Regions from separate parts of the Homo sapiens genome. Here region 1 is linked to region 2. Evidence: fine-mapped expression QTL. A gene starts in region 2. The other region holds a variant in brackets. All regions are shown on one strand. Distances are between the middles of the regions.

Region 1 (8,322 bases), 89 kb after region 2:
GGCTCCCAGGCCATGTGTGATCTGGCCTCGGCCCTGTCTGGCATCATCCTCACCAGCCCACCCCGCTTCACTCCTCACAAGCTACAGCTGCTTGGGATCCCTGGGATAAACCAAACTGTTTCTGGGTCCCTGTTTCCAGGAACAGCCCGGACACTCTACGTGAAATTACCCCCACCATCACCTACTGGCCTTCAGGACTTAGCTCAAATCCACCTCCTCCAGGAAGCCTGCCATGACCCCCATTGTAGCTGCCCTCACCAAGTGCTCGCATATGTATGGCTTTGCATGCACACATCAGGCAGGGTTGTCACTGTTTTCCTTCCTCTCTCTCCACTAGACAATGTCTTGACAACAGACTGCGTCTGTGTCCCTTATGCCAAGCCAGCGCAGTACCTGGCATGTGAGTAGGCAATAGTACCTACATGCCCGCTAAAGGAGGAAAGGACCAAACGGACAGACAAGCTCTGAACACCAAGCAGCTGTCTGTCAGCTTTCTCGGAGCTCAGAGCAAGCTTGTCCAACACAGCCCGTGGGCTACGTGCAGCCCAGGACAGTTTTGAATGCGGCCCAATGCAAATTCATAAACTTTCTTAAAACATTATGAGATTTTTTTTTTATTTATTTATTTATTTTTTTTTTTTGCTCATCAGCTGTCGTTTGTGTTGGTATATTTTATGTGTGGCCCAATTCTTCTTCTTCCACTGTGGCCCAGGTAAGCCAAAAGATTGCACCCCGCTGGTTTAGAGTATTTATGGGAAGTCTGCCCCGGGATCGGAGCAGATGTCATCCAGGGCTCTCAGATGCTGCGAAGCGGGGATGGTGTCCCCATGGCCGGCCCCCTGCACTCCCACCCCTGCCCATCCTCTCAACCTGGAAACCCGCCTTGGCAGAAGTATTTCCTGGGTTGACACTACTCCAGGATATTAATTAAAAACAAAAGCATTTTGAAAGTATTGCAAGTCCAGTAAGCACAGCACGTCCAGAGTCCTCTCTGGAAACCAAAGTTCTCTGCTGAAAACCTAGGCTTGTTGCTGCTTCAGGGTAATTCCCAGATCGGAACAGGCGCTGTTCCGCTGACAGAAAAGTCTCTGGAGCCCACCCCGAAGCCATCAGCAGAACTTGCCGGCCCCCAAAGAAAGAAACGGCAAAGCTGCCACCGCCTCGCGGATGTGCCCGGCCCGGCCCTCAGTTTCCCCGCCTACGCTGAGGCGCGGGACCCCAAGGCCAGGGTCCGCACCCTCCTGCCTGCTCGCCGGCGACGGTCTGACTAGCAGGCGCTCTGGAGGCATCCGGACCGGGGCGGGAACCGTCAGCAGCTCCGGGTCCGAGGCCGGGCCGAAGGACTCAGGGCCCCAGCGGTCGTGGCGCCTTGGCCCGGCCGGCGGGTGAGGTCCCGGGGGGAGCAGAGGCCCCCGCGGAGCTGCAGCCGCCAGCCCCGAGCCCCGCGCGCCCGGCTCTGGACTCCGCCGGGGACCTAAACACTCTTCCTGGCCCTGCCTGCTGTGCCAGGTGCGCCCCCGCGGCCGGACACTCACCCTCCTGCGGCCCCGCGGCACGGCCCCGACCCGGCGGGACGGCCCCCGCCAGCAGCAGCAGTGGCGGCAGCAGCAGCAGCAGCAGCAGCACCGCCCAGGCCGCCCCGGGACGGTTGCGGCCCGCGACCCCCATGGATGGCTCAGCGGTTGCGGGCAGAGGCGGCGGAGTGCGGGCGGTGGCGGCGGCGGCGCGGGGAGGTGTGCGCGGACGCCCTGCCCGCTGCCGCTGCCACCCCCGGCCCGGCCCCGCCCGCCCCCCGAGCCCCGGCCTCATTTTCACACGGTCCCTCCCGGGCCGGGGCGGGAAGCGCAGGCGGGAGCAGTGCCGCCCCGCCCGGCCTCCTCCCGTCCCCTCCCCGGCCTCGGGTGGAGGGGGCGCGGCCGCGGTGGCCCGAGCGCGGCTGTCAGCCTGGCGGGGCGGCAGCACCGTGCCTCGCGCCCCGCGCAGCCCTGGCACCCAGCCCGCTGCCCCCCGCATCCCCGCTCCGCTCCAACGCTCGGAGCCCTCGGTGCCGCGCCTGTTCCAGTGTGTTACAACTCGACCCAGGCCCTCATGTGAGGACAAACAGCCCTTCTAGATTGAAATATTCGGGGTCAGGGCGCCCAGAAAGTGTTCCGTATAGTCCCCAAACCCCAAAGCCATCTTGGGGCTTTCCACGTGGGAGGTGGGAGGTGGGAGTGGAAGGAATTGGGGGTGACTTCCAATTCGGGAAAACAGCTGTTTGAATGGAGAAGGTGACCCTGGCTTCTCTGCCCACCCCAGCACACCCTCTGCACCCTTCTCCACACTGCCCACCCCAGGCCCTCTGGGATCCTCCATCCCACAGCCCTGAGGGCACTGGTCCACTTGTCCCACTGTGGGGCACACTGGGCCTAGAATCCCTGCAAGCTACTTATGTATATCTCAGGGCAGCCTAAGGGGAAGGGGGCTAGAGGTCAAAGGTGAGCCACCAGAGACAACAGACAGCAGCCCCGACTTTGCCGGAGTACAGGTGGCATTTACGATCACCTGAACTCATAAACATCAGGTCTGGCTAGCTTCAAACACAGGCAGGGCCTAGCACCTAGCCTTCCATGAAAGACAGTCCTTGCAAGGGAACAGGTACACAGGGTCTTCCCATATCACACTTGACACGGATGGCTGGAGCCCAATACACCCACCATCACTCCAGGAACAAATATAGTAACAATTTCCGGACGCAACCAAACATCACACTTAGGGATAGTAATGTTCTTCACTGAGCTTCTCCGTATTTATTCAATTTTCTCCTGCGATTATATACATACACATATGTATATATGCAGGCACACGCACGCGCGCACACACACACACACCATTCCTTTGGAGATCAGAAAAAAAATAGATGTCACCAAAAAATCCCCACCTAGCTCATGCACAAAAACTCTTATGTCTTCTTGGGGCCTATCCACAGCCCAGAGCTCCCAGCCTCTGCACCCTCAGTACCCACTGTCTGCCACCCCAGCCCCCGAACATGCCCACGGGGGCCTGCCTCTTTGGGCTGTGGCTAGTGCAGCTGCTTGATGGAGCTATCTGAGAAAATAACTTTTCTGTAGTTGTTTTTCTTTTGACCCTTTCAGTGAAGGCAGGCAGGTTGCGTCCCTCTTTCTGTCTGCGCCTCCCTCCCACTCCCTTTTGTTTGGTGCTGAGAGAGACACTCAGCTATTTCTGGTCATAAGGGTGGTTTTTACACATTTGTAAATCTTCAGTTAGTGAAACGTTCTCTCCACCTTTGTCTTTGTGTCCTTAATGGTAGCCATAAATTACTGCCTTCTTTTCTCTCCACTGCATCAGGCTTCATTGCTTTTGAAATGATCAAAGTTATTTCTTTTAAAATCCAACTAGAAACTGCCCATTGTGTGGCACAGACCTCTTTAGCTCCAGTTAAAGCATATAAATACATAAAGCTGCCCATTAAACTCTAGGGGGAGCCTCCTGCAGCGCCCTTGTGCCTGGCAAAGAAATCACACATGTGCTATTCTTCCCCTTTACCTTTCCCTAACTTGATCTTTCAGTAAGGACATAAATTAATAATGA[C/T]AAGAATCAGCGCCTTTTTGCCTAAGACTGTCAGCTTTTGTCATGTTTCCCAGAAAAGTCCACCACTGGCACAGATCTCAAAAAATGTTCTGTATCCTATTTTGTTTGCGCTGACATCCTTACAAACGTGCTTTCAGCTGTTGGCTCCCAGACTCCTGGGCAACCTTTTTGACACTTGAGATTAAAGTCAATATGGCTTACAACCGGGAATTTCCACAGGGGGAAGCTCCAGGGGAAAACTGTGTCCAAATGTCAGTGTTTTTGGTGTCAGGAGGAACTTGGTTGGCTCTACTCTGGCTGCAGGCTGCCCTCTATTCTGCAGCTGAGGTCCCCACAAACTTCTCAGAAAGGCCTCAGACACCGTCCCTGGACTGAGGCTAAAGCTCCCTCTTCCTCTCCCTGTCTCCTCTCCACAGGCTGAGAGGCCATGAACCAGGCCTCAGGGGTGCGAAGAGGCAGTCCAGCCAGCCCAGTCACACTGGTGTGGGCCTTTGAGGAGGCTGAAGAAAGCCTGGTAGTGGCCGGCCATGCGTGCCCCTGAACTACACATAAGCAGGTGCCACTCTGCACTCATGGGACACCATTCAGTGCCCACCTTTCTTGACTCCCCCCCCGCCCCCAGCAGCCTCTGACATGTGGACTACTTCTCCCTGGTGGAAACTCTCCTTACCCTTGGTTGTCATCGTGGCAAACTCCTGGTTTTCCTCCTACCTCTCAGGAAATGCCTTCTCCACCATCTTCTAGGAGTCCTCTTTCTATACCCTCTCTCTGGATGGTTCACTCATTCCCTTGATTCCATAATGTCAATCTCCAGCCTGGATTCATCCCCTTGGTTCAATCCCATGTATCCAGTTGCCTACTAGATACCACCTTGATCTTCCCTAGATCCCACCTTGATCTTCCCTAGATCCCTCTGATTGAACATGTTCAAAACGAAGCTCATGACCTAGAAGAAGCTTCTCTGCTTTCTCGAATCTCTGCCTGGTTCAGCCCACCCACCCCTCCACTACTGCCTCCACCATGTCCATCAGGGTGACCCAGAAGTCCTACAGGGTGTCCACCTCTGGCCCCTAGGCCTTAAGCAGCCGCTCCTACACAAGCGGGCCTGGTGCCCATATCAGCTCCTGGAGCTTCTCTCAAGTGGGCGGCAGCAGCAGCTTCCGGGGTGGCCTGGGCACCCGCATGGCTCTGGGTGGAGGCTATGGTGGGGCCAGTGGTATGGGGGGCATCACAGCCATCATGGTCAGCCAGAACCTGCTGAGCCCCCTTAAGCTGGAGGTGAACCCCAACATCCAGGCTGTGTGCGCCCAGGAGAAGGAGCAGATCAAGACCCTCTACAACAAGTTTGCCTCCTTCATCGAGAAGGTGCGGTCCCTGGAGCAGCAGAACAAGATGCTGGAGACCAAGTGGAGCCTCCTGCAGCAGCAGAAGACAGCTCAGAGCGACATGGACAGCATATTCGAGAGCCACATCAACAAACTTCGGCGGTAGCTGGACACTCTGGGCCAGGAGAAGCTGAAGCTTGGCAACATGCAGAGGCTGGTGGAGGACTCCAAGAACAAGTATGAGGATGAGATCAATAAGCGTACAGAGATGGAGAATGAATTTGTCCTCATCAAGAAGGTAACGTGGCTGAAGCTAACATGAACAAGGTAGAGCTGGAGTCTCTTCTGGAAGGGCTGACTGACGAGATCAACTTCCTCAGGCAGCTATATGAAGAGGAAATCTGGGAGCTGCAGTCCCAGATCTCGGACACATCTGTGGTGCTGTCCATGGACAGCAGCCGCTCCCTGGACATGGACAGCATCATCCCTGAGGTCAAGGCGCAGTACAAGGAGATCGCCAATGGCAGCTGGGCTGAGGCTGAGGGCATGCATCAGATCAAGTATGAGGAGCTGCAGACACTGCCTGGGAAGCATAGGAATGACCTGCGTTATGCAAAGATGGAGATCTCTGAGATTAATAGGAACATCAGCCGGCTCCAGGCTCAGACTGAGGGCCTCAAAGGCCAGAGGGTTTCCCTGGAGGCTGCCATCGCAGATGCTGAGCAGTATGGGGAGCTGGCTGTTAAGGATGCCAACACGAAGCTGTCGAGCTGGAGGCCGCCCTGCAGCGGGCCGAGCAAGACATGGTGCAGCAGCTGTGCCATGGAGCACCAGGAGCTGATGAACGTCAAGCTGGCCCTGGACATCAAGATCGCCACCTACAGGAAGCTGCTGGAGGGCGAGGAGAGCTAGCTGGGGTCTGGGATACAGAACATGAGTGTCCATCTGAAGACCACCAGTGGCTACTCAGGTGGGCTGAGCTCGACCCACGGGCACCTCACAAGCCCTCTACAACAGGCCTTAGCTACAGCCTGGGCTCCAGCTTTGGCACTGGTGGAGGCTCCAGCTCCTTCAGCCGCGCCAGCTTCTCCAGGTCCATGGTTGTGAAGAAGGTGGAAACGCGAGATGGCAAGCTAGTGTCCAAGTCCTCTGATGTCCTGCCCAAGTGAATGGCCATGGCAGCCCCTACCAGCCTGCCCCTCCTGCGGCTGCCCCAGGGCCCGTGGAGGAAGCCGCTGTGCAGTGGAGCACAGGAACAGGAGACTCACCTGAGGCTCAGCCCTAGCCCTCAGCCCACCTGCTGGGGGAGTTTACTGCCTGGGGCACCCCCATTGGCCATGCTTCCAGCTACAAAACAATTCAATTGTTGCTTTTTTTTTTTTTTTTTTCAAAATAAAATCTCAGCTAGCTCTGCCAACTGTCCAAAACAAACAAACAAATGGAGCTCATCTTCCTCAAACCTGCTCCTTCTCAAGTGCTCTCTCCTTTAGACAAGGGCACCACCATTCTGTTAACACCAAGTCAGAGGTTTGGCGGTCATCTGGGACTCCATTATCTCCCTCCCCACCACATCCGAACAATCAAGAAAATTCTACCTTCTTATTGTCTCTTAAAACCATTCTCTTCCTCTGTGCCCATTGCCTGAGCTCAGGGGTTCGCCATCCCTCATCACCCCTGGGGGCTGTGTATCTATCCCTTTCCTCCTTCCTAACAGATACTCACTCCTCCTGCAGACAGCCCGTGTCCCTAGGAAGGAAGCTGCCCCATCTCTAACTTCAGGCTCTGGAGTTGACTTAAGACAATTGATATCATTCATTCCATTCCCCCTGCAACAGTCATTGGTTCAGGGATGAGCACGTGACGGATTTCCAATCGGAGCAAATCTCAGGCCCTTTGCTTGAAAGGCTGGAATGGAAAGGCTCTCTTTTTCTCTTTGGGATGTGGCTGTGGTAAATGAGAAACTGTGGCAGCCATCTTAATACCTCCTTCCCTTGCCCAAAAGAGGGTAAGTCCAGAGAAACCCTGAGAAGCCAACCAGGAGACACTCTGGTTGCACCTAGTCTGCGATTTCTTACAGGTCTCTCTGTCTAGAATCTCATCCCAATTCAGTACATTCAACACAGTGGCTGCCAGAGTTAAAAGTAAGTTTCATCATATCACTCCCAGTCTTCCTCAGGCTAACATCCAAGCTCCCTTGGTACAATCACTCTGGAGAACTGCCGGGCAGTATACACTAATATGGATCATGCATGCCCACTTCTCAGAATATACCCAAGAGAAATGAGTGTACATGTTCACCAAATTCATATACGAGAACATTCATAACGGCTGTATTTACACTAGCCCCAAACTGGAAATCACCCACATGTCCATCAACTAGATAATGAACATATTGTGGGATATTTGTTCAATGGAATACTACACCAAGCAACAAAACGAACAAACTCTGATACAGGCAGCCACACAGAGGCACCTTATGAACATTAGGCCTAGTTAAAGAAGCCAGGTTAAAAAGGGTGCAAGTAGTATCATTCTGAGAGACAGGACTAGCTGGATTTCCTAGGCCGACTAAGAATTCCTAAGCCTACCTGGGGAAGGTGACCACACCCACGTTTAAACACAGGGCTGGTAACTCAGCTCGCACCCAACCAATCAGGAAGTAAAGAGTGCTCACTAAAATACAAATTAGGCCAAAAGCAGGAGGTAAATAAATAGTCAAATCATATATCGCCTGAGAGCACAGGGGGAGGGACAATGATCGGGATATAAACCCAGGCATCCCGGCAGGGAGCGGCAACCCCCTTTGGGTCCCTTCCCATTATATGGGAGCTCTGTTTTCACTCCATTAAATCTTGCAACTGCACACTCTTCTGGTCCGTGTTTGTTATGGCTCGAGCTGAGCTTTCGCTCGCAGTCCACCACTGCTGTTTGCCACCGTCGCAGACCCGCCGCTGACTTCCACCCCTCCAGATCCGGCAGGGTGTTCACTGCACTCCTGATCCAGCGAGGCGCCCACTGCCACTCCCTATCAGGCTAAAGGCACGCCATTGTTCCTGCATGACTAAGGGCCCAGGATTTGTCCTAATCGAGCTGAACACTAGTTGCTGGTTCCACGGTTCTCTTCCATGACCCACGGCTTCTAACAGAGCTATAACACTCACCTCATGGCCCAAGGTTCCATTCCTTGGAATCCGTGAGGCCAAGAACCCCAGGTCAGAGAACAAAAGGCTTGCTACCATTTTGGGAGCGGCCCGCCCCATCTTGGGAGCTCTAAGAACAAAGACCCGCCCGTAACAATTCTATTCACTTCTATGATGTTCTGCTGGGTGTGGTGGCTCACACCTGTAATCCCAGTACTTTGGGAGGCCAGGGTGGGTGGATCACTTGAGCTCAGGAATTCAAGACA
Region 2 (8,322 bases):
GCCTGGGCAATATGGCAAAATCCCATCTCTACAAAAAATACAAAAGTTAGATTGGTGTTGTGGTGTGCACCTGTAATCCTAGCTACTCAGGAGGTTGAGGTGGGAGGATCTCTTGAGCCTGCGAGGTCGAGGCTGCAGTAAGATGTGACTGCAGCTGCATTCCAGCCTGGGCAATAGAGTGAGAACCCGTCTCTTAAAAAAAAAATCAAATATAATATTACTCACTCATATCTCTGGTTTTAGTTCTTAATCTAATACAGAATGAACAATACAAGATAAAAGGATAAAAGCAAAAGGGGCAGACAAAAATATAATTTCCACAGAAGACTTTGTATCAGCCAACTCCAGATACACAGGAATAGGCAAAGGCACTTTCCTGGGGCCAAGAGAACATGACCCCCTTTGATTTCCTATGGTTGCCTTCTGCCAGTCCTAAAAGAGCTGGCAGGCTGGTATCAAGCAGTGAACATTACAGAAACAGCATAGTAAGAGGTAGATAATTCAGAAATCCCAGCGGTATATTCAAATATAGGTTGCTGGTATGAGGAAAAACAACCTACAATCTTCACAAACCCAAAAGTCAATAACAACTAATTTCTCCTCTCTCTTCCTTATCTCCCTCTGATGCTATCCTCTCCCTTTTCTTGGACTCCTTCTATCGAGATTATACTATAAACTACTCCAAGTAAGAACTATTCAATTAATTTTAACATCCTCCAAATTTCCCTTGCAGTGAGAGAAAATTGAGTCAACACTGGTCTATCCCACATGTATTTATAAAGTAAAAGAATAATAATGTACTTCTAAGGTCACTTCTAAGATTGTACTAAGGCTGCAACAACAGTTCCAAGAGAGTTTAAGCATGCTGCCTCACCCCAGCGCTTGCGGCTCTCCTAGCCCTACCTCGGTCTGCCTTGGTTTCTGTAACCTGGCTGTTCTGTGCAATCACTTGTACATTATAGGTGTGAAAACAGTGAGAGAGGGAAATCAACTCCATGACGGTGGGGCACAGAAAGCGTGAACCATGATTCAGAGCCTTACAGTCAACTGTCATGTGTATGTGTCATACTCAAGGCAATATCCTGCTTCTTGAGGCTCCTTCCTCTTTGCAGCCTGCTGCCTGTGCTGTATGCTATCAGCCCTTTGTGACTCAACTGAGACAGACTAGAGTCAGAAAAGCGGATGGAATTCTTACACAGCATGAAGTAGTATAAGAAATCCTAGGCAGAAGGAAGTTCAGGTAGCTCTCAGGGCTAGGAAACTCCTCGACAACGAGGGACAACCAAATCCAGCATTTAAAAACTCTGTATTTTAATTCTTCTCTTAATATAATACTTCCTTCTTTATTGATTGCTGAGCATTCTAGGAACTAGGATAGGATTATTTGGCCTGAAGGAAAGAATACTTCTCGAACCTGATTTGTTAAATGAATCGAGATTGCTTTAAAGTGAAAGAAGGGAAAAGAGAGTTATCTCTTTTGCAGGAGCACATTTCAATCACTTATCACTCTGGGTTAGCATAAATCAGATAAACTATCCTGTGGGTTGTGCAAAAAGCAAAACAAAACAAAAAAACACAACTTGTAAAAAAAACAGAGCAAGATAACTGAAGTAGACAAACTCTGCACAGAAGTAACTAATGGCAGGGAGGAGAAAAATTTTTGTATATTATATTATACTGTGTATAATATAATGTACCTGTGTATCATTAGAGCTGTTAAATTAAAAAAAAAAAAAAAAAAAAAAGGAAATGGATGCAGAAGCTCTGCCCTCCTGGGGCCAGAAATGGCAATTTCAGTGAACTAGGGCCGACAACCACATCCAAAATTAAATATTTCAAAAGCTTAAAATAAAAAATACTAGAAAAATTATGCAGAGCACCTATTTCATTTGTTAAAAGACATTTAATTAGTGTTTCACATATTACCACCCAAATGAATAAAGCGATTGTGAAATTCAAGAAAACAATCAAACTACAAGAAAACTCCAGATAAAACTACAAAGTTAAACATAAACTTGGCCCAGGACCACTACAGTGGCTGAGGGATGACAAATACAGTTCTTTATATTGGTAACCCTTAGCCATCCATCCCATTCTATAGAAAGAGGACAGTACCATCTTTGACCCCAGGCCCCCTGTCCTGAGGTGCTTCTACTTAATGCCAGGAACAACTGTGCTAGAAAAAAAGACTGCACCCACCCCAGCTCCAGATGCACACATTAGCTGGTCGGTGAGATGCAGCAGCCTGGCTTCCTCCCTCTACCCACTCCTTGGGGGCGGGGCTGGAAGAGGAGAATGATGAAGAGATGTTGGGGGTTCAGGAAACCTTCACATTTGGCCCCTTTTCTCTCTCCCCACTCAGGATGGAAGGTCAAAGTTAGGACCAAAACTAGAGAAGTGGGTTTTGCATAGGGGGACAATGGATTCAACAGAAGTCCTCTGGATCTGGCAACTGTCAAAAAACCCTCTTTCCACTTCTTTCCCCCTCACGGAAAGCCATTAGGAATCACCTCTGTCTGGGTCATAGGAACAGCCACACAGCATAGGAGGCACAAGCCCCGTGAACAAAATTCGGTATTAAGAATAAGGAAAAAGAAAGAAGACCCGAGGGCAAGAGGGCAGGGCAGGACCTCTTCTTTCTACTGGAGAAGAGACATCCAGGGAGGAGGCACAGCCGAGGGGAGCGCAAGCTAGAAAAGCTACGACGGAATCCCCACCGAAACCGCAGCAGGGGTACTGGAAGGGGAGGAATCCGCGACGCAGCGACCGCGAGCCAAGGGCAGCGGCGGGCCGGGCCGTGACTCAGTGAAAGCCGCAACGGCCGGGCCTCGGAAAACGGCGGGCGCGAAGCCGCCGGGGCCGGGGCGAGAACGGCGGCGGGGGCTCACCATGTCCTTGGACGAGCCCAGCTTCTTGAGGCCGTCCAGGGGCAGCAGGTCGGCGGAGTCCTTGTGGATGAACTGCACCGCCTGCTTCATCCGGCGCTGCTGTCGCAGTGACGCCGCCTCCCGCATGTCGGTCTCCTTGCGGCCGCCCTCAGTGAGGAGCCCTGAGTAAAACATCGCTGAGGCGCCGGCGGCCCGGTAGCCCACAGCCCCCCGGCAGCCTCAGCCTCGAGCTCCTCCAGCGCCGCAAGGGCCCCGAGCCGCGCCTTTTATAGCCGAGCGTGACGTCGCGGGGAGCAGCCAGTGCGCGCGCGGGGGGCGGGGCCGGCACAGAGTCCACGCCCCGCGCGGCTCCCTCGCGTCCCGCGTCCCGCGTCCCGCGTCCCCTGCTCACCCGGTGGCAAAGCCGGCGAGGAGGCGGCGGCGCTGGTGGGGACTGACCCGGCAGTCCGAGAATCCACCGCGGCCTTTTCACCCAACCGCCCCCTCCTGCGTGGGGGCCCCGCATCCCCTGGACTGGCGTGGGCTCTGGGGCCCGATGCCCTGGCAGCCCCGGCCATCTCTGCCGCTGGCCGCGGGTACCTGCTCACCTGTCCACGCCGTGGCCGACCCGGGGATCACCGACAGCCGGGCCATGCCTCGAGTCCCGCCGCCCGCGCCGCTGCTCGGCTTCTCAGAAACGCACCTCCACGCCGCCAGCCGGGGCTCCAGGGTCCACCGCCCGGGCCCGGAGGACTGGCGACTCCCTCCGAGGTTGGGAGCGCTCCGGATTTCTCCAACTTCAGGTCGGTCCCCACCCACCGGGCCACGTGACTGGGGAGGGGGCAGCCGGTGCAGGCGTGTGGAGGAGGCTTTCGGGACCTCCTCCCCCGGGCACCCTCTGCCTGCAGCCCGGCACCCGGCCCGCGTTTCCGAGCCGGGGGAGCAGGTGCAGTCGGAAGCCCGCGGGTGGGCGTGGGGCGGGGGAGTGGCGAGGGTCCCCCGCCTCCGCGGGAGCGCACGCGGCTGCGAGCCCTACACCTGCTCTCCGACCAAAGAAGCACCTGTTTTTCTCAATAAGTGCTAGGGCTTACCATCTAAAGGATCGTTCACCATCCCTCCAGCGTCCTTAGTAGGAGCGATTGGAACCCGTTTTTCTTCCTGAATAATCCATACTTTTAAGCCATTCTAATCGGGCCTTCAGGCATCCTGGATTCTGGTCTCGACATTGTGATTTGACACAAATCACGTTTTCACTCTGGAAACCACAACTACTCCCTCCACCCCATCACGCAGGAGCAGACCTGGATAAGAAATATGTGCACTCTGCAAAGAACCAATGATAAAAGTAACAATATCGACGCTTACTGAGCCTTTACTATGTGCCAGGTACTAGACTAGACACTTAAAATGCAGTATCTCATTGGATCCTGGCAACAGCTTGTAAGATAGTATTCTCATCACCCCCATTTTACAGGCAAATACCTGATACCTTCTGTCTGGCCTCCTGAATGCTCCTTGGTTCCATTCCAATACGTTGTTCACTGTGCTGCCAGAGTAATCTTCTCAAACGATAAGTGTGATCATCTCACTTCCCTGCTAAGAGCACCTCAAAAGGCTTCCTATTGCTCTTAGGAGAAACCCACATTCTTGCATGGTCTGCCTAGACCCTGCATATTCACTCTGTACTTCAGCCTCATGGGCCTTCTTCCAGTTCCTTCCAGTCACCTGTTGCCAAATGGCCTGCCTTTGACTGTCCTGTTCCCTCTGTGTGCAGTGCCCCCTCCTACCCTCTTCAGGAAACTCCTATGCTTCTTCCAGACCTCAGCTCCATTATCATTTCTTTAGGAAAGCCTTCTCTGACCTTCCAGAGAGAGTGAAGTCTCTCTAATTATATACTATCTATCTCTTGGGCATTTGACACTTTCTGTGGGGGTAGGGGTAGGGGGGTACTGGTTGTTGGATTAATATTTGTCTCCTCCACTGATTGGAACCTCCAGGAAGGTGACTGAACCCATTTTTTGCTTAGCATTGATGCCCTAATATGCAGAGGGTTCTCAAATACTAGTGAAAGGATGGCAAAAAGTTAAGGTCGTACCAAAGAAATCAAGTGGTAAAGCTGGCATTTACTCCCAGAACCTGTGCTGGACTACCTAGACCTGGAGAGACTGGGTTTGGCCTCATGAAGCTGCTTCTTTTACTCTGTTCTGCCTTCAACACTTGCCCCAGTTTCAAAGACTGTTTGTGGGAAAACAAATACAGAAGGCTGCTCACTTGGCTTCAAGGAAGCCCCAGGGCTGGATTCCTCCCTGTGTGCCCATCCCCTACTTTCCCCTACACACGGAGGACAGAGTCTCTAGGAGACAGGTGGGATTGCTGTTCACCTTCCAGTCCCCTGGCACACTTCCAGCAGTGAACAACAGTGGCTGCCCTGGCCCCTTCTGTCCCATCACCTGGATCCCTGCCTGATCACTCCTCCAGGTGCAGATCACCCAGGGAACAGTGAAAGTCAGCTTTGCCTTGTCCGTCTAGGAGAGGTGCCTCTGAGTTTGGCAAAGCATCAGGGCAGGTCCAACAGTGAGGGCCCCTAGGGCTTGGGCTGGGACAGTGACTTTCCTCAGGGAGGAAGCCAGGCAGGTAGACACTCTCGGGGGGAGTTGGAATCCCCACTCTCCAGGCTGCTCAGCTCAGACCTGCAGCCTTTTTTGCTGAGGATGTCCTGACAGAAGAAAGGGGCTCTTTTCAGAGCTAGATCCCCCTGGGAACACCAGGAAGCTGAATCTCTCTAGTTGAACTGGAATTTGCCCATATCAAGTGTTGCTGAAAAATAAATGGTGCCCGACTGGAACTGGGAATCTTTTTGTGAATTCAGAGCCCTTTGGTGTAGTGGGATTTGTGTTCTGCAGTTGGGTCTGTGGCTGCAATACCTGTTGGTCCCCTCACCTGTCTGAGACCTTCCTTGGACAGACTGATACCATCACTGCCCTCAAGGTTCAGTGTGGTGAGGCCAGCTCCTTCCTCCCCCCACACATTATGAGTATTCGCAGACTACAGACTGCCTGCTTAATTTAAGGAGAGTTATCTCTGGGTGGTTTATCCTGTTTGCCCAAATGACTTTGAGTAAATCACTTCCTACCTCTGAGCCTCAGTTTCCATATCTGTAAAATGGATGTAGTGAGACTGCATATACAATTGTGCTTTGTAAACTCTCTAGGGCTGTACCAACAGAAAAGATTATTATTAATTCTCCATATAGCCAATCAACGTCCCCTGCCTCATTGACCCATCTTGGAGGAAGTAACATACAATATGGTTGTTAAAAACACAGGTTTTGGAGTCTAATACACTAGATTTGAATCCCTGCTCTGCTGCTTACTAGCTATGTGACTAGTTAGTTACTGCACCATTGTGAGCTTTCAGTTCTTCATCTAGAAAATTGTGCCAATATCTCTACTTCTCAGGGCTGCTGTGAGAAATAAAACGATAGACAGTGTAATACATTGGTCATGTAGCATAGGCTCAGCAGAAGGTAGCAACCATCATTACCTGGAACAACTTCAGGAAAAACTGTAGGTTGCAGAACCCTCGAATTGGGGCTGGCCTATCCTTTCTCCAGGCTTCCCTACAGAGCTTCAGACATGAAGCCAGACTTGAGTATCTTACCCTATCCCTAGAGCAGAGGCCTGCTGAGGCAGGGGCTGGCCAGCTCTCTTCCTCTCCTCAGTGTCTCCAGATTCTGGACTTTCCATGTGCAATGGCTCTATCCTAAAGTTCTCTGCATCCTCCCTTGGCTGTTATAGAAGACCTGTACTTGAAAATCATACTAGAAAATCCAGTACTGTTTCAGTGTTAGAATGCTATTCACGTTATTCTTCTTATAAGTGACAGATACCCAGTTGAAAATTTCTTATGTGAAAATGCAAATTTTTGGTCCCCTTAATTTAAAAGTGCAGGGCTTCAGGCATGGCTGGATCCAAAGACTCAAATGACATTATCACTGTGTTTCAGCTCTGCTTTCCTCTGAGCTGATGCCCCTGTAGGCAGACCCTTCCTGTCTGATGGCTATTTGTGACTCTAGGCTTACAACCTATTCTCCTAGCAACCCTCTTTTGGGTCTTCAGCTAACAGAGAGGCCTTTAAGAATGAGAAACAGGATGAGTGCTGAGGCTTGGAGGCCTAAAAAGTAGAGGAGAAGAGCAGAGGATAAAGGGGAGACTGCCAAGAAATTTTCCTCCCCATTCCCTCCCTACCCATGCATATTGCCCTTGGCCATACCCTGAAGTCAGAATGGCCACTCCTAGGACCCTCATCATGCACCACCCCATCCTTATAGCTGTAGGATCCCTTTCCTCCTCAGATGTCCTCACCACTACCCCAACCCCCTTTGGCAGGAAGATTCTTCGAACAGCTATCCAGATGTGTGCCAGGATCTCTGGCTACATGGTACCCCTGACTTGGCACCCAGCTCTAAAAACTGTGTCTGCTTTGGCAGTTAAAGCAAAGATAAGAGATATTTCTGTCCTCTTCCTTCAGAGTGATTGCCAACATCACCATGACCTCAAGAAACAGGGCTGATGGCAGCCCTGCTGGTGTTTTCCAAAGTTGCCTGGGTCTTTTGGATCCATTACAGTCACCAGTGATTTGGTTTCATTTCCCGGGATGAGAACAGGCTTTGACCTCAACTCAGACAGCAAAAGAGGAGAAATAATGGAAAGAAAACAAACACCAGTATCTGAAGGACGTGTGTCTGGTGGAAGTGGGGAAGTGAGGAGTCTAGGCTTAGCTTTGAATCTGGTTCCACCCCTTGCTTGCTATGGGACCTTGGCCAAGTTACTGAAGCTCTCTGAGCCTCAGTTTATCCATCTTGCAGGGTTCTGTCTCATTTGAGTGAAATAATATATAAAGGCACAAAGTGGGCTCTCAATAAATATGTCCTGTTCCTCTTTCCTTCCCCTCTCCAACATAGGTAGAGAACCCAGAAAAAGAGTGGCCCTTCTGAGCCTAGTGGGAAACTCTGCAGTATAGAAACAAGAACTCTGAAGATGGCAAGTCTCTCAGAATACAGCAAAGCATAGGCCTAACCCACCTGCTCCTTATCTCTTTATGTCAGCCCCAGCCAAAGGGGACAATGCCTGCAGCGTGGCTCACACTGATGGGTAACTTCTGTCTACCTCAGGAGCACTGAGGGCTCTACCTCCTTCCCCCCAGTTAACTAAGCATGTTGCTCAGATGTGATGGTGTGCATGCTGGGCAAGCCACAGGGGCTGGGGGCCAGTGACAGCAGAGAGGTGAAGTGCTCTGTGGAACATGTGTAGACTCCCAGGTGTGCAAACATGTGCATGCGCTCACACTCATAGTGTTCCGTCTGACCAGTTTTCGCACAGATCTACACTGCCCAAAGAGAAAAGTCATTCAGGATTATTTAAAAACTTTTAATTTGTAAAAAAAATTTGAAACT

Which allele goes with the higher level. Alleles are on the strand shown, and positions count from the first base shown. SD is a standard deviation of normalised expression in the study named.
With allele T in place of C in region 1, the expression in prostate of the gene that starts at base 3,215 in region 2 is higher (moderate effect, 0.65 SD a copy in GTEx).

Evidence for each region. PIP is the estimated chance that this variant, and not a neighbour inherited with it, causes the effect.
Region 1: its variant is fine-mapped to the expression of NRIP3-DT in prostate (GTEx, PIP above 0.99).

Annotation. Positions count from the first base shown.
Region 1 is chr11:9,089,861-9,098,182 of GRCh38, forward strand. It overlaps SCUBE2 (signal peptide, CUB domain and EGF like domain containing 2), which reads right to left and starts at 1,739. Exons shown (of 23, transcript NM_001367977.2): 1 at 1,536-1,739. The coding sequence starts at 1,668. It overlaps MIR5691 (microRNA 5691), which reads right to left and starts at 519; the gene lies at 452-519. It also overlaps the pseudogene KRT8P41. RefSeq lists enhancers at 5,454-5,955, 5,956-6,455 and a silencer at 5,547-5,752. The variant C/T (reference allele first, on the strand shown) is at 3,592.
Region 2 is chr11:9,000,874-9,009,195 of GRCh38, forward strand. NRIP3-DT (NRIP3 divergent transcript) reads left to right here and starts at 3,215. Exons shown (of 3, transcript NR_183663.1): 1 at 3,215-3,670. NRIP3 (nuclear receptor interacting protein 3) reads right to left here and starts at 3,128. Exons shown (of 7, transcript NM_020645.3): 1 at 2,889-3,128. The coding sequence starts at 3,062. RefSeq lists an enhancer at 2,305-3,224.